2 separate regions of the Homo sapiens genome follow, and region 1 is linked to region 2. The links come from fine-mapping of genetic effects on gene expression. Tissue or cell type: whole blood. Region 2 holds a variant in brackets; the other region holds the start of a gene. All regions are shown on one strand. Distances are between the middles of the regions. Region 1 holds the start of RTL6 (retrotransposon Gag like 6). Region 2 has its middle 27 kb from the start of LINC01656.

Evidence for each region. PIP is the estimated chance that this variant, and not a neighbour inherited with it, causes the effect.
Region 1: RTL6 starts here. The variant in region 2 is fine-mapped to the expression of RTL6 in whole blood (TOPMed, PIP above 0.99).

Annotation. Positions count from the first base shown.
Region 1 is chr22:44,491,502-44,503,580 of GRCh38, forward strand. RTL6 (retrotransposon Gag like 6) reads right to left here and starts at 6,732. Exons shown (of 2, transcript NM_032287.3): 1 at 6,543-6,732; 2 at 1,082-6,310. The coding sequence starts at 6,055. The coding sequence ends at 5,336. RefSeq lists enhancers at 3,848-4,625, 4,626-5,403 and silencers at 6,663-6,792, 6,883-6,942.
Region 2 is chr22:44,463,867-44,475,945 of GRCh38, forward strand. No RefSeq gene overlaps it. Among named protein-coding and RNA genes, the nearest start is that of LINC01656, 27 kb to the left of the region's middle. The variant T/C (reference allele first, on the strand shown) is at 5,772.

The DNA of each region.
Region 1 (12,079 bases), 28 kb after region 2:
CGTGACCAAGGGAGAGAAATACTTATTAATAACTGGACTCAGGGTATTTAAATCTTTGAAAGACAGTCTATTTAGAGCCTCCTCTCACATTACATGCCAAATTAATCCCAGAAATAACTGTGTATTAATCTAGAGGGGGAAGAAAGACCTGAAGTTTAAAGCGATGGAACAGTTGGTGATGTTCTCCAAACTGCCAATCCTTGTCTCTCTTTAGGCCAGCAGTTCTCAAAGAGGGGCAAGACGCTTTCGGGGGTCCACAAAATTGTTTTCATAATAATCCCAAAATATCATGTGCCTTTTCCGCGTCATCTCATGGGCGCAGTGGGGCTTTCAGAGGCACCATGGCATGTGCTCTTGCAGGTTAAGCACAGCAGGTAGGAGGCTCCCACTGTCTTCCATTCAGCCAGACATTACAGGCATTTGCAAAAATGTCTTCGTCAATGCCTCTCCTCACAAGCGTTTTGTTTTGGAAAATATAGTTTTTTTTATTTAAAATGTTGTTTAACAGTGTTTTTATTTTCCAAATAATTATTTTAAAATTCTGTTTAAATGTATAATATGGTAAATATTGATAGAGAAAACCTATATAAGCAAAAGCTGTTTGAGGCCCTCAATGAGTTCTTATAGTGCAAGGGGACCCTGAGACAAAATGTGTGAGAGCCTCGGCCTGCGAGCTCTGGAGTGTGAGAGCCTCGGCCTGCGAGCTCTGGAGTGTGAGAGCCTCGGCCTGTGAGCTGGAGCGCGGACTGCTGGATCCATGTGTGGATCCCAATGTGTTGCAGATCCATCAGAGTAACTAACTCAACAAACGTGTACTGAGTGCTTATCACGTGCCGTGGATCCCAAGGCGTTGCAGATCCACTGGAGTAACTAATTCAACAGAAGTGTACTGAGTACCTATCACGTGCCAGGCATTGTCATAGGTGCTAGTGCTACGGCCATGAACAAAACAGACAAAATCCACCTGCCTGCCTTGTGTTCTTGTCTAGCAGACACAGTGCTGTGGAGACAGATCGACTATGTATGTCAAAATTCCAATAAGATAAAACACACAAAAACCCAGAAACAGCTGTAGCAAATATGACACACACCAGGTTAATATCTTTAATATATACCGAGCTCATACAAATTTATCTGACCCCAGAAGATAGAGCAAAGGACACTGACAATCCACAAAGGAGGAAATACAATCGCTCCACATGAAAGATGTTCAACCGTGCTAGAAGTCAGTGAAATGCCAACTGAAACACGATGCTATTTTTTCATTATCAAATTAGCAAATATTTAGCCAGATGATAATTCCCAATACGGGCAAGATGGACATGTTTATCCTTGCTGGTGGCAGTGTAAGGGGATACAAATATTTCCGGAAACCATTTTGTCAATATGTAGTAAAAGCCTCAAAGGTTTTCATATTCTTTAGTTGAAGAATCCCACCTCCTGGAGTCTACCCTAATAACTTGACATTGGGAAACAGCCTGTGCACAAAGATATTCATCAATTTATAACTGAAAAGTTAGTAACAGCATTAGTGATTGGCAACTGGCACAATGGTCCATCTAGTCAATGGGAGAGTACACAGCCACTCCAAAATAAAATATTTAGTAATCATAAGGGGAGATGCCCACGATATGCTAAGTGAAAACAGCTGCACAAAACTGTATCATTACAGAAGACAGCAACAAAACTATGTTAAAACAAAAAGCAAAGAAACCATAGTTGGGGGGGAAAGCCTGAGAGACACCAAAATGTGATGTTTTATTTCCTTCTTTCCTCTACTTGCAAAAATTTATCTAACATGTGGTTTACATGGGTAATGAGAAGACCTAGTAGGTTTGGTGCTTGTGTATGCAAAGGCATGAGGCACACGGAAGTGAGGAGCTGGGTTTCCTCCCATCTCTACCGCATCTGCGCTGTGCCAACTGCCACCCCACCCAAACTCAGGTCCCCAAGAGACAGAGACACAGGGGCTGTCTGTTCCACGTGGAAGGCCCTACACCCCAACCTTCTCCCCTACTCTGGGGAGCTTCTCCTGTTGGCCCAACAGTCTGCTCTTGCTTCCCTTACCCAGGAGACCCACCTTGTGCCTACCTCTCTAAGTCCCTAAACCAGTGCTTTCCAAGCAGAGGTGCCATGAGCCTTACAACTGTGGTTGCAGATGGAGGCGCCTCCATTAGGATCTCTTCCCTCTTCCACCCAGAGCTCTGCCCCCAGTCAGTGGCTGCAGCATGGGCCCTTTTGTCCAATCCCAGGGCTTGTTCCCTAAGTCAACCTCAGCACATGCCCAGCTCAGCCATGTCCCTTCACTCCCCTACAGGCTGGAACTGCCAGGGTGGTGCCCACCCAAGGCGGCTGTCTGCCATGACAACAGGAGCGTGTGCGTCAGGCTGGTCCTGCCGCACTTTCTGGGTTTTGTTTTCCACTCCTCCTCATTGCTCATCACATACTTACCTGGGGACAATGAAATAGGTCTTTGCTATTCCCTAGAAGTCACCAAAATGCTTTAGGACATTAAGTTAGTCCCAGGGTCACACTATACTAGGCCAGGGAGTCACCCCTTCACTAACTCCCATCTCCAGTGATACCCTGGTATGCACTGAAGCCTACTTACCAAAGGGGTACCATGTGGACCAGACAGCAGTCACAATACAGTCCAAAGAATGTCAAAACCATGGAAAACAGAACTTTCCTTCACATGCACTGTTGAACACTACTGCCTGTCCCTTTTATCAATCAATACCCGTTCTCCTAAAATTTAGAGAAATTATAACCCCAAAATATGTACAAAGCATCTCCCTTCCCCCACTTTCTTAGCCTGATCCCCTATCACTGAGGTCTCCCTCTGGGGCTGCGCCTCATCCTCCTTAGCTGGAGACTAACGTATCTTCCACTAGAGCCACCATGGGGTCCTCACCTCTCCAATGTGGGCTTCTTCCAAGTCCAAGGTGGAGGGCAAGCCCCGACCCTCTCTCATCTGCTCCGTGTTCCAAAGTGCAGGGAGCTATCAAGAAGGTCCTAAGTGCATACCAGCACTCGTCCCAAGCCCACACACATAAGCACCAAGAGAAAAAACACAAATCACCATGCCAAACAAAGGTGGAGCAGCTGCTTGGATTGGGTGCCCATAGGCAGAGGGCCCGGCTGCAGTTGTGGACAGGGAGTGTGTGGACAGGGAGTGTGTGGACAGGGAGTGTGTGGACAGGGAGCGTGGCCGGCCTTTCCTAGGCAGCTGTAGGATGTGAAGCAGCACAGGCCTGACACAGACATGGTAGGGCTTTCAAAAAGCCACTCGAGTAGAGTGAGCGCTGGCGACACAGCAGAGTTCCCACCCTGCTTCCATGCTGGGCTGGGCCACATGGAAACCTTCCAGGTGCCTTTTCCCAGGTGCCACTGTACCCCTTCACTTGGGGGCACCTCTCCCTGGCAGGTACTAGTCTTACCAATATAGCTGCTGGAGACAGAACAGAACTGAGCACAAAGAGAAAGTGATCTGTACACCTCCCATTCATGGAATGGTGGCCCTGCTGTGTGTCTTCCCTCCGATCACGCTTAAAGAGCACCATGGTCCCACCTGAACAGCCTTGGCTGGAGTCCAGGGGAACCTAAAGCCTGTATTCAGGCAGTTGTTCAGCAGGGCAATTGGGCTAACAGAGTTGATGGTGAGTGGGTGGCAGTAGTCTGCGGACCCCAGCAACCACTGAATGTCCTTGACCTTGCAAGGCAGCGGTTCTTCAGAATCGCAGTCACTTTTCCCAGCATCATCAAAACTCTTAAGAAGCCAGGCCCAAGGACCCAATCTCTGGGATCCCAAGACATATACATGTCTTTAGGTGGGTGCGGAGGTTGTCCTTCTGCAATCAAGCCAAGACCCTTCAGACAGGGGCAGCTGAGCCCAGGATAGGAAGCCCTATGGTCCAGGTCATGTCAATGTGGTTCATTTGGCATTGAAATATGGCGGAACAGCACAGTCCAAAGGGCGTGGCCAAACTCAGCCACAAAATGATTTCTTGGTCATCCCCCTGTGAGGAAGGATGAGGTCCTTCAGAAGGAGGACATGCATGCCAGTGCTGCATTGTCACCACACTAGGACCACGGCAGTCCACAGCTCTTTGCTTTTACAAATGCCACCAAGACCCTGGCTGGGTTGCCAGAGGCAGACACCCCCCCCGGCCTTAAGTGCTTAAGGATGTTTCCCGAAGGGAGTCTGTTTTCCCTTGGACAAAGGCAGCCCATCTGATTGCCCAGGCACGGGGAGTACATGCTACAAGGTGCCTTTGGAGACCCACAGATGGTGCGTGGGTGGCTGCAGGGCTGCAGTGAAGGCCACATGGCACCTGAATAGAGATGGGAACAGGTCTCAAGCTGGGCAAGGCTCGCCATCAGTGACAGGGGGTAGAAGCAGGAGTGACTGAGCATCAGCCGCTGTGGCACTGCCCATGGAGATCCTGGGCAGCAAAGGGAGTCGCTGGTATCCACCCTTAGCCTGCTATGACCCTCAGGCGTGGGTGTGTAGGAACCTGCAGCCTGATAGACCTGCCCAATGGCTGAGAGTCCACCACGACCTTATTTAGCAGGCAAGTTCCAGATTCCCCAAGCCTCTGGCTCCATCAGAACACCAGCAGCTGAAGTCAGGCATTAACAGAGGTGCAACATTGGTCCTTCCCAGTGAGAGCAGTGGGGCCTCCCAGACTGCATATTCATGTGCAGAGTGGAACCTGGCCCCCAGACATGGCAGAACTACGCTCCTTGCAGCAACCACTCGACCACTACAGCACAGATGAGGCCCTGCCCGCTGCACCGGGCCCTGGCAGGGCTGGGAGGCATCTTGGGCAGGAAGCCAGACCCCCTCTCCAGGTACACCCATCAAGCCACCAGCCTGGCCAAACGGGCATCTTTCTGTCCAGAGCTCATCAATAGGAACTGGGCAACCAGGTGGGGAGCCGCCAGGGGAGCTTGGAGAGGGCAGAGTAGGAGCCTCCATGAACCAAGTCAGGCTGGAAGGGGTCAGCCCTCGTGGTCCGTCAGCGTGCGGCGGAGTCCCTGTGCCTAAGTAGCAGAGCGGTAGTCATTGAAACAGGCCGGGATGCCAGCAAGAGGGAGGCGAGCATGCAGTGAGCGATAGGTACAAAGCTAGCACGTAAGAGGAAGCACGGCAAGGTGGGCAACCAGGGCGCCAGGAAGGACGGAAGGAAGATCTCCTCGGGGAACACGTCTGGAGAGGCAAGAAGGGAGGTCTTCAAACAGGGGCAAAGCTGTCGTATGGGCATTTCTTCTACACAGCAAAGAGCGTATGCTACCTGGGTGGCTGCAGACGCTACCAAGTGCTGGCGGATTCTTAAAGATTCCGTGCTCGGGCAGGCAGGGCTGGCGCTGGACTAGTCCCGTTGGAAGCTGGATGCACTGGGCAAGGCCCCGTGCCCGCAGAGGCCAGCTGGCGGCAGAGCATCTGCCTCTCTCGCACAGCCCTATTAGAGGCAGAAGTCTTCCTGATTTGGGCGCGCCGCGCATGCCGGAGCGGAGACTTGTAGGTTCTCCGCAACTCTGCCAGGAACCCCTGATAGTTGTTGCGCAAGGGGCTGTCAGGTTGCATGTGGGGGATAGCCCACTTCTCCGCCTCCCCAGTCAGTCGAGACACAAGGAAGGCCACACGCTCGGCCTCACCCGGGAAGCGGGAGGCCTGGAAGATCATGAATCTGTCCATCTGCATCAGGAACCCCGCCAACCGGCCTGGGTCCCCGGAAAAGGGCTCGGGCAGAGAGGTTGGAGGTGTGGTCATGGGTCGAGTCCCGTTTGAAGTAATTGAGGAGATGGGCGGGGTGATCTGCAGAGCCCCCGGGATCCGCGCCCTGGTGCGTAACAAGGTCAGCTCTGCCATCACGCTCTCCAGCATGTTGGTGAGATTGGCCTTCTCCGCCCGCAGGGTGGAAGCCTCCCGCCTCAGCGCCGAGTTGGTGAGGCGCAGGGAGGTCAGGGTGTCAATAACGTCATCCATCTGGGCATTCGGAGACGCTGCCAAGGCTGGGCTTTCAGCTTTGGACGTCTGCGGCTGCACCATGCTGGCCAGAGGTCAGCCACACGCTGAGATCCGCGGGTGGACCAAGAGGGTGTGGTGACCAGGTGGGCCCCTGTAGAAATGGGGGCAGTGTGGGGTGCACGACGGCAGGGCGCTGCGAGACCCCCAAGCCGAGGGCCCGAGAGAGGGGCACGCGGTGCCAGGCCCTAGGGACTTCGGCCCCGGTCCCACGCGGCTCCTTTACTGCAGACTTCGCGGACTACGGAGCCAGACGGGTGGCTGGACCTGCTCTGGGCCCTGGAGGATTAAGAAAAGATGTTTTCAAGGTTTCAGTTGCGACTAGCGGGCAGGAGGGTGAGGGGCGGCGTGGAGGGCCCGCGCGTGGGTGGCGAGGCTGCACAAAGCCCCGCGGCGCCCGCCCCGCGCCCGCCCGGGGGAGAACAAAGGGGGCTGCTCCTTGGCGGCCGCGGGCCTGGGGGCCACCACAGTGGCGGGGCCCGGCCGGGCAGGGGGCCGGGGGCACGCGTACCTGGGGTCTCGCGGTTCCTCCGCGGCTCTGTCCGCCGCCGGCCGTGACCAAGATGGCCCGCGCGGGGGACGCGGCCAGGCCGATGAATCACCGCGCGGACCGCCGAGAACTGCTTCCCGGTCAGCGCAGCCAAGCGACGGCGCTGGCGATGGCGGCGGGCGGCCTCCGGCAGGTGCAGGGACCGGGCCAGGCCGGGGCCGGGGCAGGGGCGGGGCCGGGGTCGCGGCAGAGGGCGGGTCACCGCGCGGCCTTTGTGCGGGCGGGGCCGGCGCGGTGGCGGTGGCGGGCGGGCCTTAGGCTGGCCCCGCTGGTTGCCATGGATACCGACCGCTCCCGCGCGTGCGGAGACGACCGCTGCCCCGCCCCCGGAAGTGATGCACAAAGTCCCACCCCCCCCCACCCCCCAACTCGGGCTGCTGCCAATCGGGGAAGACTGTAGTTGCTGCGGCGTCTTCATCAGGGCGGGTACCTGGTGTTCTCCCAGTCATTCCTCCCAAGAGGGCTTGCAAGGCTCTTTCTGTGGTTGTCATTGGGTTTATTTTTTTGATGATTTACTGTTCTTCTTATTTTTTTTTTTTTTTGAGACGGAGTCTCGCTCTGTCGCCTAGGCTGGAGTGCAGTGGCGCGATCCTGAGTCACTGCAACCTCCGCCTCCCGGGTTCAAGCGATTCTTCTGCCTCAGCCACCCAAGTAACTGGGATTACAGGCGCGTGCTACCATGCCCGGCTAATTTTTGTATTTTTAGTAGAGACGGGGTTTCACCTTGTTGGCCTGGCCAGTCTCCAACTCCTGACCTCAGGGCATCCGCCTGCCTTGGCCTCCCAAAGTTCTGGGATTACAGGCGTGAGCCACTGCATCAGGCCCTTATTGTGATTTGAATATAAATTTAATGTAACAAATCTTGATGTAAGAGAAGTAAAAAAAACTTTATACTACTCAGACTCCCTCCACCTAAAGATAGCAAATAGTAATACATATATATGTAACGTAGAGATAGTAATATTTCTGTACTTCCATCCAGTCATTTTTCTATGATATGTTCTACAAAATATTTTTTACCTTATGAATATTTTGTAACCATAACAGCACATTGAATTTTGAGCATTTTCCTATTAAAGATAGTTCAGAAGCATGATTTTCAGTTATTGCCTGTGGTCCATGGAACTCCTGTACCGCAAAGTATTTAGCCATGCCCTTTTTGATAGATCCTTATCTTGTTTACCATGCTAAAGTTTTATAAACTACACTTGTATATAAATCCCCACCCTTTTCTCTGCTGGGTTCCCCAGAGTAAATACCAAGGAGTGAAGATACCTGGCTGATATGGTTTGGCTGTGTCTCCACCCAAATCTCATCTTGAGTCGTAACTCCCACAATTCCCACATCGTGGGAGGAACCTGGTGGAAGGTGATCGAATTATGTGGGCAGGTCTTTTCTGCACTCTTCTTGTGATAGTGAGTGAGTCTCAAGAGATCTGATGGTTTTAAAAAGGGAAGTTTCCGGCCGGGCACAATGGCTCACGTCTGTACTCCCAGCACTTTGGGAGGCCAAGGCGGGTGGATCACGAGGTCAGGAGATCGAGACCATCCTGGCTAACATGGTGAAACCCCGTCTCTACTAAAAATACAAAAAATTAGCCAGGCGTGGTGGTGGGCGCCTGTAGTCCCAGCTACTTGGGAGGCTGAGCCAGGAGAATGGCGTGAACCCAGGAGGCGGAGCTTGCAGTGAGCAGACATTGCACCACTGTACTCCAGCCTGGGCAACAGAGCAAAAGTCCATCTCAAAAAAAAATTAAAAAAAAAAAAAAGGGAAGTTTCCCTGCACAAGTTCTCTCTTTGCCTGCCGCCATCCATGTAAGACCTGACTTGCTCCTCCGTGCCTTTCACCTTCTGCCGTCATTGTGAGCCTCCCCACCACACAGAACTGTAAGTCCAATAAACCTCTTTCTTTTGTAAATTGCCCAGTCTCAGGTATGTCTTTATCAGCAGCGTGAAAACAGACTAATACACTGGCCAAAGGGTAAGAACTGTTTGATTCCGGGTCTGGATTCCCAGCTTGACCTAGGTGATCCTTCTGCATGGTCAGTTTCAAGCTGGCATGGCTGGAGAGAAAAGATACTGAGAAATAAAAATAAAAATTTAAGCCCCCCCCCCCCAACCAACTGAACAGACCCCCTCTTGGCCAGGGGACCCCAGAGAAACCTGGGAAGCCGAGTTCCTGGCCATGATGGGATGGGAGGTTGGACACACTTCATTATCTGCCCCCGCTCCATAACCGATAACCACCATTAGGCTTTTTTCCTTAAGAGTTAAACAGAAACAAGCCTCTTTGAAAGACTTCAACATTGATACCAACCAACCATCTGACACTGCCCCTCCCTTTTTGTGGCACACAACAACTGACCAGCATTCTTTCCTAGTAAGAGACCACCAACCCTGGAGTGGTTCTGGCCAGCCTGTGGAGGATGTGCAGTGAAAGCTTTTGTGTCCTCTGATACACCTTTTGACATTAGAGGGCTGAAAACTCCACCTTCAGATCACGCTAACACTGCCATTTTTTGTAGGTGCTACCCATGAAGGGGGATGAAGCTCAGTTGCACATGTGCATATTTCTCTTCTCATAAATATTTATAACTCCTCCTGTAGCTTATTGAATATGTATATTTGGCCACCCTGATCAACATAAATTCCTGTCTTACTCTTCCAACCCTTGAAGTGCCTGTTTATGGCTTCTGGCCAGAGGCTACACTTCCCAGCCTATTCAAATGGCCACTCTGCAGGGTGCAACCTTTTATGATAAATAAAACTCTCCTTTCCAGGTTTATGAACCTCGTCATTCTTCAGTTAACAATACCCAGTATGCCAGTCTTTTGAGGACACAGTATTCAAGGAGGCTGAAGCTGGGAACCATCTGCACTCTTTAGGCAGGCCTGGGACAGAGCTGGATTCACTCAGACCTGCAGTTTTCACTCAAGGGAATTAGGGCATAAGGATGTTGTTACTGAGCAAGTGGTCTTGCTGCCTGATGCACACGGAAGCCGATACATATGGCACCAGCTTTTGAGAAAAGAAAAGCTTTATTGCAAAACTGACCAGCAAGGAGAGAGGAGGTGGGCTCAAATCCGTCTCCCTGATTTGAGGTATGGGGCAAGTTTTAAGGGATCAGGTGGCAAGAGAAAGTATTTATCAATGCTGGCTTGCCAGGGTCTGATTGGAGGGCTTCAAATTTGACCATATGTGGTAATGTATATTAAAGTAGATTTTAGCCCCAGACCTTCCAGGCTGATGGACCCCTTTGCTTGTGAATGAGTTCTGGTTTTCAACTTCTGGTCATGTCCCAGTCTTCTTGGTTCTAAGAGGACGAATCATTGGTTCTGGGTGTTGTTGGAGGTCAAAGTTTTTTCTACGGCACATGCCCAGGCTACATGACTTGCAGTTTTGGGCTCTGTTCTACCTAAAAGGCAGCTTGACATTTTGTTACCAACAGGGTAGGCCCAGTTTGGGCTGGTCCCACAACTACAGTGTCAGAACTTGGAAAGGATACTTGTACCCCAGTGTGCCAAAGTGTGCACCCTTTGTGACCAGGTGAAAACTTCTAGAGCATGAAGCAAGAGGGAAATAAAGAAGACTGTGTGTCCTTAAACTTCTTCCATGAGACCTTCTAAATCAGATGGGGGCAGGAGCTGTGTTAACCTTGACTGAGGTCAATGACTTCAAAAGCAGAAATGAGCCTGCAGCCTTCTACCCCTCCAGGTTCTTCTAAACACACAGAGGAATCCCATCCACTCGTGGGAGTCACTCCATCTGTCTCTCTGTCTCTCTGTCTGTCTAGGCCCCTGGATACTGGGCACATTAGTGAAGTGTCTGCTGCAATTCTAAGTGTGGTTGACACCATGAATCTTAAATTCCCAGGTGCATTGAATATAAGATGCACCCCAATTTCAGAAATGATAAAACATTTAAAGAAATAAATAATTTATCTGTATTTCACTTTACTTCCAAGGGGAAATTAGATGGCAGCCCATAAAATAGAGCAAAATAAAAATTAATGGACTTTTAAAAGTAAAAACAGGAGAAGAATATTTGGCTTCTCATCCAGATGAAGCTATGATTCATGCCCTGAGGTGCCTGTCTGGGCTGTGAACACAGAACAATAAAATATGCAAAGAAAATATTGAAAGGATATAAGTGGGCTCCAATCGATAAACAAGATAAACTTCACAATGGTCCAGAAACACAAACTTCTGAGTATTGACGTGGGCCTGCCGGGCTCTGGACCTGAGACATAATAGGGACCCAAGGCTGGGAACACAGCCAGGCTTCCTATTTGAATCCAGGGGATGGAGGAGAGAGGAGTCACCCCTGTGTCAGAAAAAAAGTCTGAAAAATTGGATTCAGTCATTTCATGGGGGTGGGGTGTGACAGTTTATGTGAAAGTGTGGCCCTGGGTCAAAGGAGAACACAGATATAGTCATCTTAATCTCTTGTCCCCTGGTTTAACAAGTAGACCAAGAGGGTCAGGATTCCAAACCACCAACAAAATATATATACACATATATATTATACACATATATGTATATATGTATGTATATGTGTATGTGTGTGTATATATAATATGCATATATGTGTGTGTATATATATATATTTCTTTACCACAGACCAGACATCAAGTGGACCCACCCCAAACTGCTAGATGGGGGAAGGGAGTACCAAGAGAGAAAGAGAGACAAAGTCTTTCAACACAAAATGAGTCTGAGATTCAAAATTCTGAAGCCCATGAAGACATCTTATGCTAAGAATAATAGTCAAGAAAAATCAATAACTGTAAGGTGAATTAACTCCAGAGGAAATTAAAATAATAGAAGAGTCTGAAAAAAACAGACTTTAAAGTAAGTATATTTGGGATGCTCAGTGAGAACAAGGAAGGAATAATATTTGTGAAAAGAACAGATTGTGGAGAAAAAGCCATATTGTACCAAGATCAGGTACCTGTGAAAAAGTACCTTTTAAAAGAAAATGTAGTTGATTTCCATTTCCAGTGAGATGGAGTAGATGCACTCATGCCTATTCTTTGCAGAAAACGTATCGAAAAACAGCTTTGAAAAAAAAAAACCACAAGATGCAGTAGGTGGAGAGAAGGCACCTCAGGACCTAAGGAATAACACTGTGGTGAGTTCCTCGAGTTTTCTTTTGCATCATATAACCCAGACTTGGAGCTGAAGAAGCTGGCAACCCCGAAATGCCAATGGGTGCAGACAAAAAAAAAGCACCCCCTCCATAAAAGCCTGCTCTCTCTAGACAAAAACAAACAAACAAATAAACAAAGTGGGGGGCAGGGGCAGCCTAGCAAGAGAGGAAACTTAGACAGTGATCACTCTACTCTAGCCAAACACTGGCAACACTCCTCAAATTTATCTACAGACTCAATGTGATCCCTATCAAATTTCCAGCTGCCTTTCTGCAGCAACTAGTGTGCTGATTCAGAAGTTCATATGAGAATTCAATGGACTTACAATAGCCAAAACAATTTTAAAGAAC
Region 2 (12,079 bases):
TTTCTCTGAATAAAATATATGAAGAGCCAATAAGCATACAAAAAGATGCTCAACATTATTAGCCATCAAGGAAATATAAATCAAAATACAATGAGATGTTAATATATAATATTATAAAAGTTATGTATATAATATTTTTTAAAGAATAATGCTTCTATGTGGTTATAGAATAGCTATAGAATAGCTATCATCAAAAGACAGATAACAAGTGTTAGTGAGGATGTAGAGAAATTAGAACCCTCATTCACTGCAAAATGTAAAATGGTGCAGCCACTTTGGAAGACAATTTAATCGTTCCTCAAAAGGTTAAGCATAGAGTTACCATATGACTCAGCAATTCCATTCCTAGGAATACACCTAACAGCAGTGAAAACATGTCCACATAAAAACTAGTACACAAATGTTCCTAGCAGTATTATTCTTTTATTTTTGAGGCAAGGTCTTGCTGTATCAGCCAGGCTGGAGTGCAGAGGCGTGATCACAGCTCACTGCAGCCTCAACCTCCCAGGCTCAAGTGATTCTCCCTCCTCAGCCTCTCAAGTAGCTTGGACTACAGGCACACACCACCATGCTTAGCTAATTATTGCATTTTTTGTAGAGACAGGGTTTCACCATGTTGCCCAGGCTGGTCTTGAACTCCTAGGCTCAAGCAATCTGCCAACCCCAGCCTCCCAAAGTGCTGAGATTACAGGCATGAGTCACTGTGCCTGGCCACATAGAAGCATTATTCTTTAAAAAATATTATATATATAACTTTTTTTTTTGGTAGCTGTACGGTCTTTCTGTGTTGCCCAGGCTGGTCTCGAACACCTAGCCTCAAGCGATCCTCCCACCTTGGCCTCTCAAACTGCTGGTGATGCAGGGCAGGCAAGCTCTAAAATTGGGACTTAGCCTGGGAGGGTTCTTGACTTCACCTAAGAAAGAATTCAACTGTGAGCCAGTGATGTTAGACATCAACACTTATTGAAGTGGCAGTGTATGGCAGCAGCAGAGGTACTACTCCCTGCGGAGCAGGACCACCCCATAGGCAATGTGCCCAGAGTAGCAGCTCAGGTGTAGTTCTGCAGTCATAGTTATACCCACTTTTAATTACATGCAAATTAAGGGTCAGGTTATGCAGAAATTTCTAGGAAAAGGATGGTAACTTCTGGATCATTGACATAGAAAGGGGCAGTAACTTCCAGTCTTGCCATGGCAATAGTAAGCTGACATGGCATTGGTGGGTGTGTCTTATGGAGACTTAAGAGTGCTTTTGCCTCTTCCTTGGTTCAGCTAGTCTTCAATCTGGTCCAGAGTCTAAGCCCCACTTCTGGAGTTGAGTCCAGCCTTCTACCTGAATATTTAAGAAACCAAAGATTTACCCCCAGATTTCCTTCTAAGAGACTTATAGTTTTAGCTCTTAGGTCTGACCCATTTTGAGTTAATTTTTTATATGGCATGAAATAGTGGTCCAGCTTCACTCCCTTGCATGTAGATAGTCAGGTGTCTTAGCACCATTTGTTGAAAAGACTATTTTCCCCATTTAATGGTCTTAACATCTTTGTCAAAAATCAATTGACTATAAATGTGAAGATTCATTTCTGGATTCTCAATTCTATTTCATTGATATATATGTCTATTCTTATGTCAATACCACACTGCTTTGAGTACTGTAGCTTTATAGTAAATTTTGAAATAAGGAAGTGTGAATCCTCTAACTCTGCTCTTTATTTCCAAGAGTGTTTTACATATCCTGGATCCCTTAGTGTCTATATAAATTATTGGGTCAGATTGTCAATTTGTGCAAAGAAGCAAGCCTGGATTTTGGCAGTGATTACAATGAATTTATAGATCATTTTGGGAGTATAAAACAATATAAATTATTATATAAAAATATAGATATAAATATAAATAATAAATTAAATTAATTATTAATTATTAATATAAATTAATTATTAATTTATTAATAATAAATATTGCAAATATAAACAATAATAAAAATTATTGTGATTATATAAATTAATTATATTAACAATATTAATTACTCTGATCCATGAACATGGGATATGTTTCCATTTATTTAGATTTTCTTTAATTTCTTTCAACAATGTTTTATAGCTTTCAGAATATATATTTTTTACTTCTTTGTTAAGTGTATCTGTAAGTATTTTGTTCCTTTTAGTGCTATTGTAAGTAAATTTTCTTAATTTCATTTCAGATTGCTCATTGCTATTGTATAAAAATATAATATATTTTTGCATATTGATCTTGTGTTCTGAAACTTTCTAAACTCATTTCTTAGTTCTACTTTTCGTGTGTGTGAATTGCTTAGGATTTTCTGCACAAAAGGTTATGTAATCTGCAAATAAAAATAATTTTACCTTTTCCTTTCCAATGCAGATTCCTCTTTTATTGCCTAACTGTCCTGGCTAGAACTCCCAGTACAATGTTGAACAGAAGCAGTGAGGGTGAACTCTAATCCTAGTCTGAGTATTTTTATCATGAAAGAGTGTTGAATTTTGTCAAAAGCTTTTTTTTTTTTTTTGAGACGGAGTCTCTCTCTGTCACCCAGGCTGGAGTGCAGTGGCACGATCTCGGCTCACTGCAACCTCCGCCTCCCAGGTTCACGCCATTCTCCTGCCTCAGCCTCCCGAGTAGCTGGACTACAGGCGCCCGCCACCACGCCCGGCTAATTTTTTGTATTTTTGGTAGAGATGGGGTTTCACCGTGTTACCCAGGATGATCTCGATCTCCTGACCTCATGATCCGCCCGCCTCGGCCTCCCAAATTGCTGCGATTACACACGTGAACCACCACGCCAGGCCTGTCAAATGCTTTTTCTGCATCTATTGAGATGGTCATGTGGTTTACTGCTGTACTGATATGGTGTATTATACTAATTGTTTCTGGGTGTTAAATCAACCTTGCCTATAGGGATAAATTCCAAATGGTCATGGTGGACAATCCTTGTTGGATTCTATTTGCTAGTATTTTATTGCAGACTTTTTGTATCTATATTCATAAAAGATATTAGTCTGTAGTTTTGTAATGTCTTTGTCTGGTTTTGGCATCAGGAAAATAGTAGCCTCATAGAATGAGTTGTGAAAGTTTTCCCTCTTCTTTGATTTTTCTGGAATAACTCATAAATAATTGATATTAATTCTTTCTTAAATGTTTGGCAGTGAAGCAATTTGGACCAATGCTCTTCTTTGTGGAAAGTTGTTTTCTTTTAAAAAAAAAAAAAAAAGTTACTAATTTAATCTCTTTATTTATCTGTTCAGATTTTCTATTTCTCCTTGAGTCAGTTTTGGTAGTTTGTGTCTTTCTAAGAAATTATCCATTTCATCTAAGTCATCGAATTTACTGGCATATGATTGTTCATAGTATTTAAATGGCATCTTTTAAATTTCCATTTGCTGTTTGTTTCTAGTATACAAAAATACAACTCACTTTTGTATATTGACTTACTAGACTCTCTAATGAATTCCAATAATGTACCTGTAGAATCTCTAGACTTGCTACATGCATGAGCAAATTCTCTGTAAATAATGATGAATCTGTTTCCTCATTTCCAATCCTTATGACCTCATTTCTTTGTATTGCCTTACAGTAAGGCTTGATTTTCAGTCCAATGCTGAAGAGAAGTGGGGGAGCAGGTATCTTTATCTAGCTGCCAATTTTAAAAGGAAGGTTTTCAGCATTTTACCAATAAATACATGTCTTCTATAGTTTTTGTAGCTACCATTTATCAGATTAAATTTTTTCTTTTTTTTTCTTTTTCTTTATTTTTTTATCATTTTGAGACAGGGTCTCACTCTGTCACCCAGACTGGAGGGCAGTGGCATGATCGTGGCTCCCTGCAACCTCTGCCTCTCCAGTTCAAGCGATTCTCGTGCCTCAGCCTCCTGACTAGCTGGGAATATAAGCACGCGCCCCCAAGCCCAGCTAATTTTTGTATTTTTAATACAGACGGAGTTTTGCCTGTTGGCCAGGCTGGTCTCTAACTCCTGACTTCAGGTCACCCACTTGCCTCAGCCTCCCAAAGTCTCGGCCTCCCAAAGTGCTGGGATTACAGGCGTGAACCACTGTGCTCAGCCTATATTTCTAGTTTTCTAAGAGTTTCTTTTTTCGTAAATGGAGTTTGGGCTTTGTCAAATGTTTTTTCTGCATCTATCGAAATGAACATTTACTTTTTCTCCTTCAACTGTTAATGTGGCAAGTAACATTTGAGTTTACAATGTTAAATCTACCTTGTAGGTGGGTCACTTTTCTAATGTTTTGTTTAGAATTTTTGCATCTGTGTTTTGCGTGAGGTTGCCTGTAATTTTTCTTTCTTGTGTTGTCTACCCTCTTCTCTTTTTCATATCAAATTAAATTGGCCTCCTAAAATGGATCAGGTAATCTTCCCTTTTTTTCTTTCTCTAGAAGAGGTTGTGTATTAGAAGTGTTATTTGCAGGGCAGGATTCTCTGGTGAAGCCATCTGGACTTGGAGTTTTCTTTGTGGGAAGGTTTTTAGTTAAAAGTCAATGGTTATAAGATTATCCAGATTTTCTTTTTCTTGTGCCAATTTTGGAGCATGTGTTTTTCTAGAAGTTTATCCATTTTATGTAAAGTTTCAATTAAATTGCTACAGTTTTTCCTGATAGCCTCTATTTAGTTTCCTATAGCTGCTACAACCATTTATCACCAACTTGGTGGCTTAAAACAACACATATTTATTATTTTACAATCTGGAGGCCAGAAGACCAAAATGGGTTACACTGGGCTGAATCAGGGTGTCAGCGGGGCCATGCTCCCTCCAGAGGCTCTAGAAATGCACCCATTTCTTTGCTTTTCACAGCTTCCAGAGGCCACCTATACTCCTTAGCTTGTGCGTAGCCACTTCTCTTATCTTCAAAGATGCCATTTAAATACTATGAACAATCATATGCCAATAAATTAGATGACTTAGATGAAATGGATAATTTCTTAGAAAGACACAAACTACCAAAACTGACTCAAGGAAAAATAGAAAATCTGAGCAAATAAATAAAGAGATTAAATTGGTAATTTAAAAAAAAATCCCACAAAGACGAGCCTTGGTCCAGATGGCTTCACTTCCAAACATTTAAGAAAGAATTAATACCAATTATTTATAATTGGTATTATAAATGCCAATTAACTATGGTGATGGTTGCAGAACCCATTATAAACCCTCCAGGCTCTGCTTCCATCACAGACTTCTCTTCCAGTGTTAAACCTCCCTCCACCTTCCTCTGGCCTGGAATACTTGTCCTAAGCACTTGACTCTATCTGGCTATCACAGATACATGCATGAGATCATCATTTGTGCTGAGAGTCTCTAGGGAAAGAGACTCAAACAAGTGACTCCTTGTCTCTTAAGTGTTTTCAAAGAATTAATTGCTGATTTCATTAATTTTCTCTTACTTTTTTCTATTTCATTAATTTCTAAGCTCATCTTTATTATTTTCCCCTTTCTATTTGGTGTTTGTTTGTTTGTTTGTTTGTTTTTGAGACGGAGTCTTGCTCTGTAGCCAGGCCGGAGTGCAACGGTGCGATCTCCGCTCACTGCAACCTCTGCCTCCCGGGTTCAAGCAATTTCCCTGCCTCAGCCTCCCAAGTAGCTGGGACTACAGGCGTGTGCCACCATGCCTGGCTAATTTTTTGTATTTTAGTAGAGTCGGGGTTTCACAATGTTGGCCAGGATGGTCTCAATCTCCTGACCTTGTCATCTGCCTGCCTCAGCCTCCCAAAGTGCTGGGATTACAGGTGTGAGCCACCACGCCTGGCC[T/C]ATTTTTCTGGTTTTATGGTTGTATTATTATTTTTTATTTTTTTATTTTTGAGATGGAGTCTCACTCTGTCACCAGGCTGGAGTGCAGTGGCACAATCTCAGCTCACTGCAACCTCCTCCTCCCGGGTTCAAGCGATTCTCCTGCCTCAGCCTCCTGAGTAGCTGGGACTACAGGTAGGTGCCACCATGCCCAGCTAATTTTTGTATTTTTAGTAGAGACGGGATTCCACCATGTTGGCCAGGATGGTCTCGATCTCTTGACCTCGTCATCTGCCCACCTCGGCCTCCCAAACTGCTGGGATTACAGGTGTGAGCCACAGCACCAGGCCTGGTTTTATTTTTGAGGCATCATGTTGTCTGGGCTGGAGTGCAACAGCGTGACCATGGCTCACAGCAGCCTCAATCTCCCAGGCTCAAGTGATCCTCCCACTTCATCCTCCTAAGCGGATGGGAGTACAGGTGTGCACCACCATGCCCAGCTAATTATTATTTTTATTATTATTTTGGAGAGACGGGGTCTCACTGTGTTGCCCAGGTTGGTCTCAAATTCCTGAACTCAAGCTATCCTCCCACCTCGGGATCCCAAAGTGCTGGGAATACAGGCATAAGCCACTGTTCCTAGCCCTGGTTTGATTATTATTTTTTTTAACTCCTTAAGATGATTGCTTAGCCCATTGATTCCCAGCCTTGATTATTTTCTAAAGTAAATATTTATGGCTGTAACTTTCTAAGTGCTGCTTAGCTGCCTCCCATATGTTTTGATGTGCCTTGCTTTTATTTTCATTTCATTCAAAACATTTTCTAATTTGCATGATGATTTTTCTTGACCTGTGAATTACTTAGATGAGTATTTCTTAATTCATAGTTGCTATCTTGTGTCAGATTTTTATGTATGATTTCAGTCCTTTAAAGTGTATTAAGATTGTTTTATGGCCAAAAATGAGGTCAATTTTAAAATAATCTTTCGTGTGTGCTTGAAAATAATGTACATTCTGCAGTTGGATGCAAATTTCTCTATATGCCAATTAGGCCAAGTCTGTTGGTGGTGTATTTCAAATCTTCCGTATGCATACTGATTTTGTGTCAGCTTATTATACCAATTACGGAGACCTTGCACTAAGACTGTGAATTTGTCTGCTGCTCCTTGTGGTTCTGTCATTTTTCTTTAGCTATCTTGAGGCTTTGTTATTGGGTACATACAAATATACAATTGCTATATTTTTCTGATGAACATAACCTTTATCATTATAAAGGGCTTATGCTATCCAATGACTTTTCCTTTCGTGCTATTTTGCCTACCAGACGTAAAGCTAGACTGACTTTGTTCTGGTTAGTGTTTGCAGGGTATGTGTTTTTCCATCCTTTTACTTTTCACTTTTCCGCATTCTTAAGTTTTACATGTATCTCCTGAAAACAGCATGTAGAGTTTTGAAAACCCATCCTGACAAGCTTTGTCTTTCAACTGGAGAAACTGCCCATGTAGTTTCAGTCTAATTGCTGATAAATTTCCCTTTTTCAATCCTACTTTGTATATCTATCTAACCTCTTCTATGTTATTTTTCACTCTGTTCTTGCCCTTTGGGATTGATTATATATTTTATTATTCCATTTTTGTCCTGTCTTAGTTTGACAATTCTATTGCGGCTTACCTAGAAATTTCAATACCCTTCCTTTTCTTGTTAGCATGAAATATTAATTGCTACTTTTCCACTTCCCCAGGAAATGCAAGGATCTACGATCTGTCTAATTCCATTACCCCCTTTCCAAGTTATACGCTCTTGTGTTTCTATATGTTCCATATATTTTAATATAATATACTCCATATATTTTAAGCTCCATAAGAATGTATATACAGTTTGTTCTCATTTCGGTTTTTTAAACAACTTTATCGAAATATAATTTGCATACCATATAGTTCCGCTGTTTAAAGTGTACAATTCAATGTTTTTAAGTTATTTGCAAAGTTCTGCAACCATTACCATAGTTAAATTTAGAGCATTTTTATCATCCCCAAAAGACACCTTGTACCCATTAGCAGCCACTCCCCATGACCCACCTCCCAACTTCTCCTCACCCTCCTCCTTGCCCCTAGCAAACACCAATTCACTTTCTGTGTCTGTAAAGGGCCTAATTTAACATTTCATATAAGTGGGGTAATAAAACACACAGTCTTTTGTGTCTGGCTTCACTGTGCAGAATGTTTTCAAGAGCGCCCATATTATAGCATATTTCGGCACTTCATTCCTTTTTATTGGTGAATAATGTTGCACTGCAGAAATATAACCCCTTTTGTTTATTCACTATTGATGGATGTTTATGTTTTTTCCATTTGTTGTCTTTTATGAATAATGCTGCTATAAACATCTGTGTAGAAGTTTTTAGGTGGACATATGCTTTCAATTCTCTTGGGTATATACCCAGAAGTGGAATTACCGGGTCATACACTAAGTCCATGTTTAACCATTTGCAGATCCACCAGACTGTTTTTCAAAGTGGCAGCGTCACTTCACATTCCCAGCAGCAATGTACGAGGGTTCTAATTTCTTTACATCCTCATTGCTGTAGTTTTAATGATGGGGTCCCTCCAAAATTCGTGTTGAAACCAAATCCCCGATGATACAGCAGTGTTAAGAGGTGTGGCCTTTGAGGGGTGAGTGGAAGTGGTACCTTTGTAAAAGGGCTCAAGGCTGGAGGGAGGGCTCTCTTGCCTTCTGTCTCTTCTGCCGTGGGAGGCCACAGTATTCCTCCCCACTAAAGGATGCTACAACAAGACGCCATTTTGGAAGCAGAGAGCAGCCCTCACCAGACACCAATCCTGCTGACACCTTGATCTTGGACCTTCTGGCCTCCAGAACTGTGAGAAATAAATTTCTGGTCTTTATAAATTACCCAGTCTATGGTATTCTGTTGTACTAGCACAAACAGACTAAGACAGAAATGGGTACCAGGAGTAGAGTATTGCTATATATGTATATATATATACATACCTGAAAATGTGAATGTGGCTTTAGAACTGGGCAATGGATAGAGGCTGAAACAGTTTTGAAGTGAGTGCTGGAAAAACCCTGTATTTCATTAAGGGAAATTCTGGTGAGGGCTGGGTCTTCCCAGAAAAGAGCTGTAGAGATTATCTGAGTAGGTCAAGCACAGAATGTTGGTAGAAACATGAACAGGAAAGGCCATTCTGATAAGGTCTTGGACAGAAATGAGGAATTTCTTATTGGAAACTGGAGGAAAGGCCATCTTTGTTACAAAGTGGCAGAAAAGTTGTCTGAATTTTATCTGTGCCCTGCTGCTCTGTGAAAGCAGAATTCAAAAGTGATGAACTAGGATATTTGGCAAAGAAAAACTCTAAGCATGGCTGCGTGGCTTCTCTTAACTGCTTATAAAATACAAGAAAAGAGAAACGAGTTAAAGACAGGATTCATTATCAAAAGGGAAGCAGAACATAAAGATGTGGAAAATCTCAGCCTGGCCATGTGAAGGATGAAACCGCATGTTTAGGGGAGAAAATTAAGGGTATGGCTAAGCTACACTTGGATAAAGAGATTAGCATGGATAGAAGGGAGGCAGATACTATCCATCAAAGCAATGGAAAAATGGCCCATTTCAGAGTCAATTGATGGCATTTCAGAGATCTTCCGTCCTCAAGATTTCAGAGATCTGCTACAAGTCTCACAGGCCCAGAGGGCCACATTCTTGAGGGTAGCAGAGTTCAAAGGGAGGGTTTCAGGATACTCACGGGACGTCAGAGCTCGCTGCCCACTGCTGCCTCAAGTCTCAAAAATGCTCCCTACATTTTTGTGCAGTGCTCCTTGGCCACCCCAGCCATAGCCCAAGTGGACCCAGATGTGGCTCAGGCTGCCACTCTAGAAGGCATAAGCAATAAGCCTTGGCAGTATCCACTTGGTGCTAACTTTGCAGGCAGAGCTCATGCACAGAGAGTGTATGAGCTGTGGATCCATGGCTACCTCAACCTAGATTTCAAAGGATATCTCAGAGAGCCTCGGGGCCCAGGCAGAGAAATGCTGCAGGGGCAGGACCACTGCAGAGTCCCCACTAGGGCAATGCCTAGTGAAGTCAGGGCCACCACGGAGAGCCCCTACTAGGCCAGAAGAAAGGGGCACCAGGGGAATGTCCAGTGGGGCCACGGGAGTGGGGCTGTTCTCGAGACCTCAGAACTGTGGAGCCATTGGAGTATGATCCCAGCCTGGGAGAGGGGCAGTCACCAAACTCCAACCCATGAGAGCTGCTGTGTGGACCACCCAGCAAAGCCATTAGGGAAGGGATCCCTGGAAACGTTAAAGGACCAACTCCCACCTAAGTGTCTAGAAGGCAGGACATGGAGTCAAAGAAGATTATTCTCAAAACTTTAAGTGATTTTTTTTTTTTTTTTAGAGACAGGGTCTCACTGTGTTGCCCAGGGTGGCCTTGGATTCCTAGATTCAAGCATTCCTCCCACCTTAACCTCTCCAAGTAGCTGAGACTGCAGGCACACACCACTGCACCCAGCTCAAGCTCTAAGGTTTAATGTTGTTTTCCTGTTGGGTTTTGGATTTACTTGAAACTTGTTACCCTTTTCTTCTTGCCTATTTCTCTCTTTTGGAATGGCAGTACCTATCCTATACTTCTCCCACCATTGTATCTTGGAAGCACATCACTTGTTTGATTTCAGTCTCACAGCTGTAGAGGAATTTGCCTACGGATGAATGGTACCTTGAGTCCCATCTGTATCTGAGTTAGATGATATTTACATGAGACTTTGGACTTAGACATTAAAGTTGATGCTAGAATGAGCTAAGAATCTTTGAGGCTGTTGGGATGGAATACATGTATTTTGTTTGTGCAAATAACATGAATTTTGGAGGCTAGGACAGAATGTTATGGTTTGAATGATGGTGTCCTCTCCAAAACTCACGCCCAGTGCAACAGTAAATTAAAAGGTGCAGCCTTTGGGAGGTGATTAAGACAGAAGGGTTCTATGCTCATGATTGGGATTAGCACCCTCTCTTGCCTTCTGTCTCTTCTGCCATGTGAGGCCACAGGGTTCCTCTCCTCTGGAGGATGCTGCAACAAGATGCCATTTTGGAAACCGACGGTAGCCCTCACCAGATATCAATCCTGCCGGCACCTGGATCTTGGACTTTCTAGCCTCCAGAACTGTGAGAAATAAATTTCTGTTCTTTACAAATTACCCAGTCTGTGGTATTCTGTTACAGGAGCAAAAATGGACTAAGAGACTTACCAACATTTGTTATTGTCTATCCTTTTGATGATAGCCATTCTGGCAGGTGTGAAGTAGCATCTCATTGTGATAATTTTTGCCTATATTTACCCACATATTTGCATTGTAGTCCTCTTTTTTGCTGCAAGTCTGACCTTTGTTGGGGTCATTTTCCTCATGCCAACAGAACACTTTCTAGTATTTTCTTTACATAGGTCTACCTACTATTGATGAATTTTCTTAGTTTTAGTCTGTCTGAAAATGTTTTTATTTCATCTTCATATTTCTATCTTTCTACTTTAAACTTTCTTCTAGTTATACTTGAAGTCAGTTGCTTCCAGATAGCATTTAGTTGGGTCATTTTTAAGATTTACTCCACCAACCTGTCTTTTCATTAGTGTATTAAGACTATTTACATTTAATGTAATTATTGATATTTCAGAGGTTAAGTTTGTCATTTTTTTCCTGTGTGTCTCCTCTAATTTTGTTTCTCTGTTTTTTTCTCTGCATCCCTGTGGAGCATTTGAACACTTTTTTAGGATTCCATTTTGATTTGTCTATAGTATATTCAAGTGTTCCTCTTTGTGTAGATTTTTTGTGGATGCTCTAGGCACTACAATATACATACATAACCTATGGTCTACTGGTGTCAACCTTTTATCAGTTAAAGTGAAATATAGAAACTTTACTTCCCTTGGAGTCCATTTACCCTCCCATTTAAAATATTATTTCCTAAATATTTCTTCTACATACATTGAGAACCATAGTGAATGATGTTATAAGTTTTGCTTCAATCCTTGAACACAGTTTAGGAAATTCAAGAAAAGAAAATTATATTGCATTCACTCATAGTTTTGCTCTTTCCCTTATTCTAGGTTCCTAATGTCCCAAGATTCCTTCTTTTATCATTTTTTTCTATTTCAAGAGCTTCCTATAGCCATTGTTTTATGGTAGGTATGTTGGCAATAAATTATTTTCATTTGTTTTCCTTTGAGAATGTCTTAATTGCCCCATCACTTCTAAAGGATATTTTTGCTAGGTATAAAATTATGGGTTGTGAATCCTTTCTTTCAAGAATCCAAAA